Linked DNA regions of Homo sapiens: all the other regions are linked to region 3. The links come from fine-mapping of genetic effects on gene expression. A gene starts in region 3. Each other region holds a variant in brackets. All regions are shown on one strand. Distances are between the middles of the regions. Region 1 overlaps LOC105376314 (a long non-coding RNA gene). Region 2 overlaps KCNT1 (potassium sodium-activated channel subfamily T member 1). Region 3 holds the start of FCN1 (ficolin 1).

Evidence for each region. PIP is the estimated chance that this variant, and not a neighbour inherited with it, causes the effect.
Region 1: its variant is fine-mapped to the expression of FCN1 in whole blood (TOPMed, PIP above 0.99).
Region 2: its variant is fine-mapped to the expression of FCN1 in whole blood (GTEx, PIP 0.97).

Annotation. Positions count from the first base shown.
Region 1 is chr9:134,937,502-134,941,632 of GRCh38, forward strand. LOC105376314 (a long non-coding RNA gene) reads left to right here. Exons shown (of 4, transcript NR_188683.1): 3 at 3,967-4,107. LOC124902302 (a long non-coding RNA gene) reads right to left here. Exons shown (of 2, transcript XR_007061846.1): 2 at 1-3,764. Among named protein-coding and RNA genes, the nearest start is that of FCN1, 22 kb to the left of the region's middle. The variant G/A (reference allele first, on the strand shown) is at 1,577.
Region 2 is chr9:135,786,577-135,790,707 of GRCh38, forward strand. All of the region lies in intron 29 of KCNT1 (potassium sodium-activated channel subfamily T member 1), which reads left to right. LOC107987140 (a long non-coding RNA gene) reads right to left here. Exons shown (of 3, transcript XR_007061851.1): 1 at 3,484-4,131; 2 at 2,920-3,095; 3 at 1,353-2,787. Among named protein-coding and RNA genes, the nearest start is that of KCNT1, 86 kb to the left of the region's middle. The variant G/T (reference allele first, on the strand shown) is at 2,260.
Region 3 is chr9:134,916,191-134,920,321 of GRCh38, forward strand. FCN1 (ficolin 1) reads right to left here and starts at 1,722. Exons shown (of 9, transcript NM_002003.5): 1 at 1,579-1,722; 2 at 158-271. The coding sequence starts at 1,681.

The DNA of each region.
Region 1 (4,131 bases), 21 kb after region 3:
GTCACCGGACCACCTTTCTTCACCTGTGTCCCATCTGCGGTGGGGAGGGGGGACTTCATTCTGCATTTTACATTTGAGGTAACTGAGGCAACCTGGAGGAGGTCACAGAGCTAACCATTAGTGGGAGAGCATCAGGCACATGAGGACCTGCAGCTTTGCAGGAGGAAGATCCTGATGCCCCCAAGCATCCTCACAGGCGCTCTCGGCTGGAGGTTCATCTTTCAAATCAGCCCTGCCTCCTCCAGTCAGCTCTGTCTGGTTTAGCTCAGCTAACAGGATGCGTCAGCTTACCTGAATAAAACACTTTACACCCCCACGTAAGGACCAATAAGCTTAACCTTTAGGGACAGGTTTGGTTTTTGTTTTGCCTCTTCCTGTCACAGGCTTCAGCTGCCACATGGATGAGGAAGTCAGGGAGGTAACTGACCAGACCAGCACACCTTCTCCCTGCCCCTGGCTGGCTAGCTGGGACCTTTCCCCCTCTGCCTCTCCAAACCTGAGGCTGAAAGGGGCCTATGGGGGTGTTCGGGAATCTGGGAGGTTGCCAAGCCCCATCCACCAAGGTGGGCCGGTTCTGTCCCTAAGTTGGAGCTCAGGACTGGCTTCAGCCAAGGCAGTGCCCAGAGCCTTTGAGAGACCCCAGGCTGGGGTCGGTGGGGTGGGCCTGGCTCTCTGGGGAAGGCTGCCATCAGGGAGCGTGGGCTGCCGCACACTCTCCTCCCGGTGTTGACAGTGACGGATGTGGTCAGGGCAGGACCCAGACAGGGAAGAGCTGAGGTTCCTGGTGGGTCAGTTTGGCTCTTCCCTGCTCTGCTCTGTGGCTGCAAATACAAACCTGGGGCCCAGCAGGGACAGGCATCCCCACCTGTCAAAGGCCTACGGACCCAGGGAGGGGGACGCCGTTCCTCACGGCCCTGGTGTCAGAAGCATGACCGGCCTGCTTTGTCAAGAGGCGGAGGAGGGCGGGATGCCTGCTGGGCATGTGGACTCTCAGCTTCCAAGCAGGTCCTGTTGCCCTCCTGCCCTCCAGGTGACAAAGCTGAGGCACTGTTGGGAGTAGCAGTCTGCCCGTCATCCCTGGCAGTGGGTCAACATGCAGCCTGGCTCTGGGACCTGGAATTGGACCTGGGTTATGCAGCTGGCCTGTGCAGGTGCCAGCCTCGCCTCTCTGGGCCTCCATCTCCTGAGCCACACAATGAGGACGAGGCCGGCTCTGCACTGAGAGCAAGGCCGACGGCAGAGGCCATGTGCCGCAGACCTGGACTCATCCCCTCACTATGCAGGCAGGCCCCAGCCCCTAGAAGCTCCTGGAACTTGGAACTCTGGGCAGAAGCCCTCAGAACAGAGCAGCCCAGTTCTGCCTCTTCCAGCTTCCCCAGGAGCCTGCTGCCTCGTCTGCAGTGGCAGGGAAGACCATGACGCCCCCCACACCCACATCCAGGCTGCCTTGCAATCCACACACCTGTCCATTTCACCTCCATCCACGTCCCTCTCCCCTGCGGCCACCACGCAGGCCCAGCCACCCCCACCCCTCTGCTGCTGCAGCCTGGAAGGTCGCTGCATGCTTCTCTATCCC[G/A]GGCAGTCCCGCACCGCTTGGGGAAGCTGGAAGAGTCCAGGTCTGCTGGCACCAGCCGTGAGATGGAGCATAAGGGGCATGTGGCACCCCTGAGCACAGACCCTCCTGGGCTGTCCTGTTACAGAGAGGGGCAGATCACCCTCCTCACAGCCTCCAGGCCCTCTGGGTCCAGCCGCGTTCCCTGCCCGACTCATTGTGTGAGTGCCAGGCACGTCCCCCTCCTGGGCACTCACCCTGCCACCCCCAGGCCTCCTAGGGCCAGAGTCTCTGCCCTGGACACGTGTATTTTCCTACTAACTGCCACTCATCCTTCTGTCTTGTCTGCCCCGGACAGTCATGCCTCTGCCATCTCCCCCTGGCAGGGCACGCTGCACCTTCTGAATCCCACCGTGGCCCTGGGAAAATTTCACTTGTCTCTCGGCACACCAAGGCCAGGCATTCAGGGATTGCATCACTTTCCTGAGCTATGTACCTGCAGCATCTGGCTCGGGGCTGGGTGTGTCACTGACCCACAACCACTGCTGAATGAATGATGAGTGGATGAGTGAGTGATGAGCGGATGAGTGAGTGATGAGCGGATAAGTGAATGAGCACAGGTGGGTCTCAGGAGGTCCTTCCAGCCCTAGAACTGACTCGGGGGCCTTGGTTAATGCCAGTGGGTGATTTTCTGACTCTAAAGGCAGATGTGGGGAGTGGAGACTCAGCCCTGAATGCATGCAGTGACCCAGCACTGAGAGAGGACGGTGGCTCTGGCGGGGTGGCCGCCTGCGAGATGCTCCCCGGGGCCTGCTGCGGAGATGAGTAAACATCAGAGTTTTGTGATGAGGGCTCTGCCAGGGGAAGCCCACGGTATCACGGAGAGAAGACAAGGGCATCCACCACAGGAGGATGGACAGGGTGGGCAGGTGTGGGCTTCGTCATCCATCATGGCCAGGGCTGGGAGTCCTCAGCGCTTCCAGCTCTGGAGACAGGCCCAGAACCCTGGAAAGAGGAGCTCCCATCAGCCCACAGGGGGCTGGGCCGGCCATCCAAGGCAGACATCCAGGGTCCTTCTATTTGAACCGATGGGTAGATGCTCAGCTGCTCCGGGGGCTGGTCCAGGCTCCATCCCAGTCCTGGCTGTCCATGCAGAACATGGTACCCAGGCCCCAGGACTAGCAGATAATCCTTCAAGAGGGTCCAGAAACGGTGTGCCGAGCACAGTTCTCCATGAGTCAGAGGCCTCTGGACATGAGCCTAAGGGGCCCACATTGAAATAGGACTCTCTAATCACAGCTGGGCACCAATCAGGCACCGGCTTCCATGGCTGAGGCCTGCTGGCTTCTCTCTCTCAGTGAACCGTGCTCCCGTCAGCCTCCGCGCGACATCCCGCAAGGCTGCAGCCACCTCTCGCTCTGCATCCAGGAGCAGGAGTGTCCGGGGTGGAGGCTCTGCTGCCCCATAGGCTGTGGGGCTGTCTGTGCCAGGAGGAAGGACCCCTACCCGCACCTGCTGTGTGCCTGCTCAGGGGTCGAGGCAGCTGCGCAGCTTACAAAGAGGACAGCACCCCCGTCTCAGGCTGCCAGGGCCTTCTGTGATCTCCTGTCCTTGGGCTCCTCTGCTGGCACCCTCCTGCTCCTCCTGAGCCGTCCTCGTGCCCTTGCCATCTTTCCTGGAAAGCCTTGCATCCATTCAGCACAGCTTCACAGCTTCACCCAGCCCGGGCCTCATGTGCCCCAGAAACACAGCCTTGAACACAACAGCGGGTTCCCTCTCAGGAGCTTCCCCACCTCCCCCTGGGTCAAGGAGAGGGAGACCAGCATTGGCGTGCACTGTGTCAGGTGGAGATCAATTGGAAGAAAAGCAAAGTGGGGTGGTGGTGGGCAGGGGACCGCAGGGGGTGCTATCTCAGAGGTTTCTGCAGGGCCGTCTGTGCAGAAGCCCATTGCTGTCGCTTGTAGCTCATCGTCCTTGTGGCAGCCCCATGCCAGTTCTGCAGGCCAAAGAACAAGGTTCAGAGAGGGTGAGCAGCTGGCAAGAGAGCACACAGCAGCTAGTGGCAGGAGCGGAGCCCAGTCTTCCCTCCAACCGAGCCCTTTCCTTCTCCTTAGCTTTGCCCACCGAAGCCCTTCCCATCTCCTTGCCTAGAGATGGTTAGGCGTGACGACTGTGTTCAGGATGACCCTGGCCAGGTGCAATAATTACAAGCCTAGGAAAAATGACAGAAAATAAACATTCCAAGATATTAGCAAGCTGGCGTGGCTTTCTCTTCTGCTTTACATTATTTTTTCCTTACTTTCCAAATTTTATGCGGTGAGAATTTATTACTTTCATTACCAGGTGCAAAAAATAGAAACAAACAAAAAACTCTGTCTGATCTTTCAGACTAGTTCGAATGTCTTCTTTTCTAGAACTGGGATGACCAGGACATTTGGGCGTGAAAGGGGCCCTACAAGCCTTAACAGATACTAAAGAACGTCAGACAAGCAGAATGAGGATGGCCCCAGGCAAGGTGGACCCCACCCCAGCTGCAGGGAACAGCAAGGCTGCAGGTCAGTGTTGAGTGGCCCTTTACA
Region 2 (4,131 bases), 870 kb after region 3:
CCACAGCCAAGAACAGTCGGCCACGGCGTCCCGGGGCCCGGGCCGTCCTCCTGTCTGTCATCTGTCTGTCTGTCAGCCTTTCTGGCCACCCTCTGCCTGCCTCTACTGTGGGGCCAGCTGTGGGCACCACCACGGCCCAGCAGAGGCCCCGTGCAGAGGAGGGAAGTGGCCATGGCCCACCCTGGTGCTGGGAGGCCACAGGACCCTTGGGCATCCCTGGTGTGAGCCCCGTAGGGAGGTGCTCGCTTCCACTGCTCTGGGGCCTCAGTTTCCCTCTCTGCCAAATTAGAGACAGGAGCTGGCTGAGCCCTTTGGCCAGGGGAGGCAGCTGTGGGGTGGAGAGGGCCAGGCTGGGCTCCCCAAGTCGAGGGCATCAGCTAGAGTTGGGCCAGCCAGCTGCAGCCAGGCCTGCTGGACAGCGGATACCCAGGGTCCCTGAGTTCTCGCAGAGAACAAGACTGGTGGGGACCCCCTCCCAGAGCCCCCAGCCCTCCCAGCAGCCAGGGTAGGGGGGAGACTTTGGGGGAACAGTTGGGGGAAAGGCCCATGCCAGGACATGCCTCTGTCCACCATGGGCCTGTTGCCACTCCCACGGCACAGCCCCCTCCTGCCGCTTCAGGGAGCCCGGCGTCCGTCTTCAGCAACAGATCCGTGCAGCCCCCTCTCTCTGCGCCTTGTGGTGGGAAGTGTGCTTGGGCTTCGGGGCCCTACATGCCCTGCCTGGCGTGGAGAGAAGCTCATCCCCTCCCTCACTCTAGAGATGCTACCTCCGTTGATGAAGCCATGGGCCCCAGCTCCCCAGCACCGGGCCGCTACCCAGTGACACCCACCCCTGAGCCGGGTCGAGGCTCCACCTTCCCTTTGTTCCATCTCAGGGACTTGCCTGATGCTCAGGGCTGCCTCTGTCCCGTCGGAGTGCCCCGTCTCCCAACCCTGCTTCCTGCGTCTGTCACCTGGGTCGGGGTCTTGAGTCCCCTGAGCAGAGTCAGGAGCTCACGGCTGGCCCAGGAGCTGCTCACGGGTGACTGGGCTGGGCTGGCCTGCGGGCCCGAAGGAGACTCAGAGGCCAGGGTTTGGGGAACAGGTGGCCTGTGAAGACCTTTCCCGGCCCCCAGCCCTGTGGGCGCTGGGGAAGGTGTCCCCCTGTCCCCGCCTTGAAGCTTCCCTCCATCCCCACAGTGTCCCTGTCCCGGGAGGGACTTCACGCCCTTTCAGGTGGGGCTCACGAGGCTGAGGGGGGTGCCCAGCATTCATGTTTGTGGTCCCCTGTGACTGCTGGCAGAGGATGATCCCGCCCGGTCTGGCCACCCCCAGAGCTGGTGCCTGCCTCTGCGACCGCTGCCTGCCCCCAGAGCTTGGCAAGGAAGGAGCAACTGCCTTTCTGGTGACCGACTCGCTTCTGGTGGCCGGCCTCCCGTGCAGCTGCCCCTGCACCCGCCCACTGTGCCGGCCGCCCGCACCTCGCTTGCTGATATTCTCTCTCTCTCTCTTTCTGTCTGTGCCTCTTTCTGTGTGTTCTGTAGAGGACGTAGCAAATTTAACAGCCAGTGATGTCATGAATCGGGTAAACCTGGGATATTTGCAAGGTAATTCTGCCCTGGCGGGTGCCGACCACCGCACAACGGGGCTCGCCAACCCTTCACCGCCGGCAGCCTTGCTGCGCCATCCCGGCCAGGCAGGTGGACAGGAGCTGTGAGAGCACGTCCCAGGTGTCAGCCCAGGCGGCCCTGTTGGGCAAGGCCTCGCATGCCGACAGAGTGTCCCCTGGCTGGGCGTTGAGGACGGGCCTGAGGCTGAGGTCTGGGGCTTGTGCTAGTCAAGGTGCTGTTGGCCGCCAGGCAGAGTGGCGACTGCCCAGCTCTCGGGCTCACCCTGGTGCTGCTTCTCCTGCTTTGCTGTTTACGATGAGCTCTGATGTGACCGGTGGGCCACCCTGGCCTACAGCCAGCCCTTCCCTGTGGCCGGCCCCACAAGCAGTCTGAGGACCCTAAGCTCCTCTGCTCTCAGGAAGCACCCAGAGGGTCCCGAGCCAGGGCCCCGGGAGGAGCTCGGTGAAGCCTGGGCTGGATGCAGGGGTGGGGACTCCAAGCCACGAGGAGTAGGCAGGCTTTATGGCTGCCCAGGCCAGGTGGATGGTGACCTTCGTCCCCCAGCTGGGGCTCCACGAGGGGATTCTTCCTGCTCGGCTCGAGCAGAGCCGCTCCACACCCCGTTTCCTCCAAGAACATGCTGTGCCCCGTCAGTGCTCAGCAGAGTCCG[G/T]GCCAGGGTGCTCCCAGGGGTCCTGGCAGCCTCAGGGGAGCTCAGAGCCTGCCCCCGCTGCCACACCTCCCTACAGGGTAACCCAGGAGCTTGAAGGGCCTCCTGAGCCAGGACGGGTGTTAGCTCGGGAGGGACCTGTTTGCCACAATGCCCTTGCACCCGGAGGCAGGGCCAGGCCTGGGGCAGCCACAGAAGTAAAGCGTCGGCCTCTCCCGGCTCTGTGCTTTTCCCCACGATGGCGCTCATGGAAGACCCTCGCTCTGCCGGGCACTGTGGTGCTCGGACCTGCAGCTAGCGGCCTTCATGAGTGGGATGCCTGCGTCGCCCGCTCCCCTCACCCGCCAAAGCTTCCTGCGGCTCCCACTGCAGCTCCAGGGCAGGCATGGCCACAGCGGGCTTGGGGGGCGAGGGCTCACAGGACTCCCGCGGCAGGCATTTCCTGGGCTCGGCCTACATGCCCGGGAGGGTGACGGTGCCGGGGTTCTGGGGCTGGGGAGCTGCACCCCCATGTTTAGATTCAAGCGGAGCCTAGGCCAAGAGGCAGAACAGGAAGAGTCACACCCTTTGCGGGGAGGGCGGGCAGCATCCTGGGGCCCCTCCAGCGTGCAGCCCCCATCCCACACACACAGCGGGAGGAGGCACCCCAGCCCCGATACTCACACAAATCCCCTCTTCACGCCTTCCTCACAGCTGCCGTGGGGGGAGGCACTAGTTATCCCCAGTTTATAGAGAAGGAAACTGAGGCTCGGGTGGCGGTAGCTCTGGCCTGGCGTGGGGGATTCAGGCGGGAGTGACCGTGGATGCCAAGAGCCAGGAGGTCTGGAAGCCTCTGGGGCCTGCAGGGTTAGGAAGCGGGTTGGGGGGCGAGCAGAGCTACCACTGAGGCCTGGAGTAAAGGTCGGAGGGTCTGGGTGGAGGAGTCAGGTAGCCCTGGGGACCAGGGGCGAGGTGGCCCTGCCCCAGGACATGCACCAGAAGAGCCAAAGCCAGCCCCTGCCCCACCCCAGGCCCTCAGGCACACCTGCTGCCAGCCTTCACCAAGCACCGTGGACACGCGAAGCTAGTCCTCTGCGACCATCCTGGGCAGCCAGGACCAGTGCCATGTGACTGACCACAACCCAGGCCCTGGCACTGCAGCTGGGGCCTGGCATCCCCACCCGCCCCCTAGCCCAGCCCCAAGAAACACAAAGCCCAGCCTGGCTCAGCCCAGTGAGCTCTGCTTACTTCAGAAGCGTGTGGTCCGGGCACCCCAGCGGGAGAAGCTGGGGCCTGGGGGCCAGTCTGTGCCTGCCGGAGTGAAATGAGCTGGTGGCCCCTTGTTCTCGGTGTCCCACTGGGTGCTCGTCACAAAGCCAGTCAGGCAGGGGGGCAGGGTCCCAAGAACCTACTAGAGCTGCCCTCACCACCCACTCCCTGTGCCACCTGCCATGCGGCCACCCCAGAAGCGTGTGTGGGCACGAGGGTGGGGAGGGTGTGTCTCCCTGCACAGCCTCAGCATGAGGCCCCTGGGCCTCCTCCAAAGGCCTGGGGAAGACCCCACCATGGGTTTTGGGAAAAGAGCAAAACAGCTGTGAGGGGCAGGTGTCAGGCCGTCCCATCCCGCAGGTGTGGACACAGGAGCTGGCACCAAATGACCTGCCGCCGTGTGCGAAAGGCCTGAAGCAGAGCTGGTCTCCTGGCCGGAGCTGCCCTGGTCGCCCCCAAGTCCTAGCCTGTGCCCCCGCCACCCTGGCAGCAGCTGTGCTCACACTGTGGGAACTCCAAAGCCCCCACTGCAGAGGGACCAGCATGGCCCCCACCTGGCTGGCCAGCAGCCTCCCCGACTTTTCCCTTCTCAGGGACCAGGGCAGGGCTACCCCAAGGGGAGAGGAC
Region 3 (4,131 bases):
GGGAGTCAGCTCTGTTCCTGGCTCTAGCAGGGGCCTGACCCAGGCTCTTGATCTAGGAACCACGGTGGGGGTGTTGCCCAACTCTGCATCCAGTTTCATAAAGAGCAAGAGCCAGTGCCCCTGCCATGCCTGGCCTCCCCACCCGGCCCGCACCTACCTCTCTCTCCAATGACACCTGCCTCTCCCTTTGGCCCTGGGGCCCCGGGCAGCCCCGGGCAGCCTCGGAGAATGGTGAGCTTGTCAGAGCCCTCCAGGCCCACCACCTTCACCTCTGCAGAGAAACACAGGTGCCCACTCAGTGCCTGGCCCAACAGTGGCTGGGAAGTGAGGTTTTCTGCTCTGCTGGGGCCTTGGTCTGTCCTCACCCCTCAGGCACTGGTGAGGCGGAGATGTGATGGGGGGCAGAGCTCTGGCTTTGGAGGCCACCCCGACCTAGGGGAGCCCCATCTCCTCAGTGCTGTGTGTCCTGCAGCAAGTAACTTAACTCCTCTGAGCTTTGTGCCCTGGGCTGCCAAGCGGGGATAATAACAAGGTTGCGGCCAGGATTTGGTTAAAGAATGTGCATTTTAAATCTCTTATTGTAATTTATGGCATTTAGAAAGAGCTTAATAAACAGCGGGCACTTTCAATAACTAATGACAATCAATATTTCTAAGAAACTTGGGGAATTGGGGCTGACAAAGCATTTTCCCTCCCAGACCTTGGGAATGTGGTTGTAGAATTACTGGGCTGGAAGGGGCTTTCTAGGTCCTCTGGAGAGGGGCAGTGTGGGGTCCAAGGACACAGAGCCAGGTGTGGCACAGCTGCAGCCAAACCAAAGTTGTTTACTTCTTTGAAAAAATATTTTTCATTTTGTTCATTACAAAATCTACACGCCCTGCTAAGGGCGCTCTTAGAGACCATGGAACGGAGCAGTGCTCTCACCGGAGACATGGCACTGCCATTTTTGGGGTATTTCCTTTCTGTGTTTCCAGTCCTCCTTCCACTAGAGCAGGCTGTAATTTACTATTTATGTTTCCTTCATAAATATGTTATCAGCCAGGGGCACCAGGCCGTCCTTAGGAGCAGTCTCTTGCTGAGCGTCACAGAACCACCTGCTCCTGAATCAGTGAGGGAAACACCTTACCACCGTTCAAACCCTTGTCCCTATCAACTGATTCCGACTCTCTTGGAGGAGAGCCAGAAATCTGCCTTTTTAACAAACCCCCCAAGTCCGTGTGGCAGCCACCGTATTAGAGGGTCTTAGAGTGCCTCCCTGGTAAGCCCGTAAGAAGATAAAGTCAACAGTATTTTCTTCCTTCTCAGTGACAGATTCCAGACCCACCTATGAAGCTCCAATGGGCAAATCCTGGGCTTTCGAGGCAGACAGACCTGGTGACATCCCTCCCCTATCCCTCCATGACCCTGGGCAATGCCTCAGCTGCCCTGAGCCTCCATGTCCTTGCCTGAGGATAAAACAGATCTGTTGGGCATCTTCACAGGAAGATGTGCATAAAAGGTTTTGCCTGGGACACCCGAGTGTCAGTGAGTGGGGTTGTTACCAGCTTTTAGGGACCAGAAAACCCAGGTCTGTCTCACCTGGACATGTGTCCGCAGCCTGGGCAGGCAGGTTCTTGATATGCAGGAACAAGACTAGCAGGACAGCGAGCCCCCGGGCCATGGTGGCTCCACTCAGCTCCATGCTCTCTGGCCTTTGACTCTGAAGAGTCCCCCAGCTCTAACAGGGCAGAGGAAACCAGCTCTCGCCTTGTGCCACAGTTTCTCAACTCCCTGGGGGACACCCACTTCCTATGGGCTGCTTAGTTGCACCAACAGGAGGTATGAGGTCATCTCAAAGGATGTTTCCTTCCACTAGGCTCCAGCAAGATGCCCACCCCATTGGGCTCTCTTCCCCCAGCAAAGACACCCTGCTCCCAGTCCAGAGAGCTCCTGAGACTCCTCTGCTGGAAAGCATCGGCTTTGCTTGTGGCTTAAGGAGAACACAGCCCCCACACCCCCTTTCCATTCCCCAGCTGTCCCCAAGCAATACTCGGAAACCTTGACCTTAACCTTGGGGGATAAGGAAGGTTTTGCTGAAGACGCTTCCTTGCCTCATCTGTTCCCAGAAAATTCAGGGTTTGTCCGTCATCAGGCACTTATCATGGATGGAGAGGAAAAAAATGTTGAGCACTTGTTATGTCCCAAATACTATTTCCATCATATCATCTTGCACCAGCCCCATTCGGTGGAGTAAATTATTTGAAAGTTACAGCTGGAGAAATTGAAGTCACTCCACTAGTAAGAGCCAGGCATTGGACTCAATTCTGTCTAACGCCTTGTAGATCACTGGGATTGCTCATTTCACCTGAAGGTGGGGATGCCTCTTGTTCCCCCAAATCCCTGAGGCCATGTTCCTACTCCGCATCTCGTGCTGTGAATCATGCTTAGCCAGGCCACGCTGTGGACACTTTGTGCGGGATTTTTAGAACGTATAGAAATAGTCACTAACGAGAGTCAGATGGTAGCAGGACTAAGGAGCAGGGAGAGGTGTTGTTTTGTGGTTTGCAACTTCTCTGAGCCAGCGTGTGTAGACTGGGTTTCCAAACTCAAGGGCTCCCCAGGTGGGAGAGAAGTGGAGGGGCGGCCCAGGGGTGGGGGATCCAGGAGACACAGGACCTTGTGTCCAGGCTCTCTGGGCACCACAACGACTCTCGACTGTGTGTGTTTGTGTGTGTTGGCTCCAGCCTGTTGAGAGACAACGGCAGGAGGCTTCATTGCCTCAGACACCGCTTAGTGTCCCTGAGCTACTGGCCCAGGCGGGAGAGGTCTGGGTGTCAGTGGTGCGGCCTCCTTTCTTGGAGAGGATCCAATTCAGGAGCAGCACTCACCTGGGATTGGGTCAGAACAGGGAGAAAGCCAGCAGGTCTGTGCCCCTCAATTCCATTTGCCAGCTGCCCCCTGGGTGTGAGGGGACCTCCTCTTCCTTGCAACATCAATAGGTTTATTTCAGGTGAGAAGTCAACACCACCTTCAGATATCAAGTCAATGTTCCCAAGAGTATGAAAGAATGCAAGATTCTGGCAAGTTAAAATATCTTAACATTGGATCAACAAAAGTCATTTGATTCCTGGCAATGGCAGTTTAGGTATTTGGGGGCATCCTATTAAGGACAAACAGACAAAACCTTTAAAAAGAGATTTGCTCGAAGGCACCGTCAAGCTAGCTATGTAGTAAAGGATTACTTTGCCAAGCTCTCAGGAGCCACAGAAATCTTAGAGAAGTGAAACTAGTAGTGGGGACCTCTTTTTGCACAGGGATTTGCCAATCTCCAAAAGAGAGGTGAGAAGTTGGGCAGTGATTTCACCATCTTGCAGAGCTGAAGGTCAAAGACTGGGGCCTACGGCCTGCCAAAGGTATGGGTTTGGGGTTGGCTTTCAGAAGGGCTGCACCCTAGCAATAGGATGAGTGAGCAACAACCAACATTCACAAGGGCTGCAAACTGGTTTTGAGACATCTAAGTGTCCCAGGAAAGGAATCTCAACTCCTGGAATTATTGCTCATGCCCCCAGGCTCCTTGCTGAAAGAAACAAAAATCTTCTCTGAAGGAGAATGACATCATCCCAGGTCATTATTTCTGCAAAGTGTTTTATTTTTTTCAAATGAAATGTTAAAACACAATCAACGATAACCAGGCTCATGGGAATAAAAGACAATGTGTATAAGGACCAACAGAAACAACAGAATATAGAAAGAGGTCTTTGGAAGCTGTGGATACAGAAGTTACAACATAATTAACAGGAAAAATGGAAAACCATCCTCAGAGACTGAGAACAAATAAGGATGCTTGTCATCACCACTGTGGTCAACATTGTATTGCATGTCACTGTCCAGTGCAGTAGGCAAGAGAACAAAACCATAAAAAGATTGGAAAGGCAGACACAAAGTTGTTATTTTCAGAAGACATGATTGAGGATGTAGAAAATTCTAGAGTTTCTACAGATAAACTAGCAGAATAAAAAGTTTAGCAAAAATCAATTGTGCTTCTAAAAACTAGCCTCAAAGAATTTAAAAATGAAATTTAAAAAATTTGCATCAGCAACACCAAATTCAAATAACTGTGAATAAGTCTAACAACATCCATGCTGGTCTTCT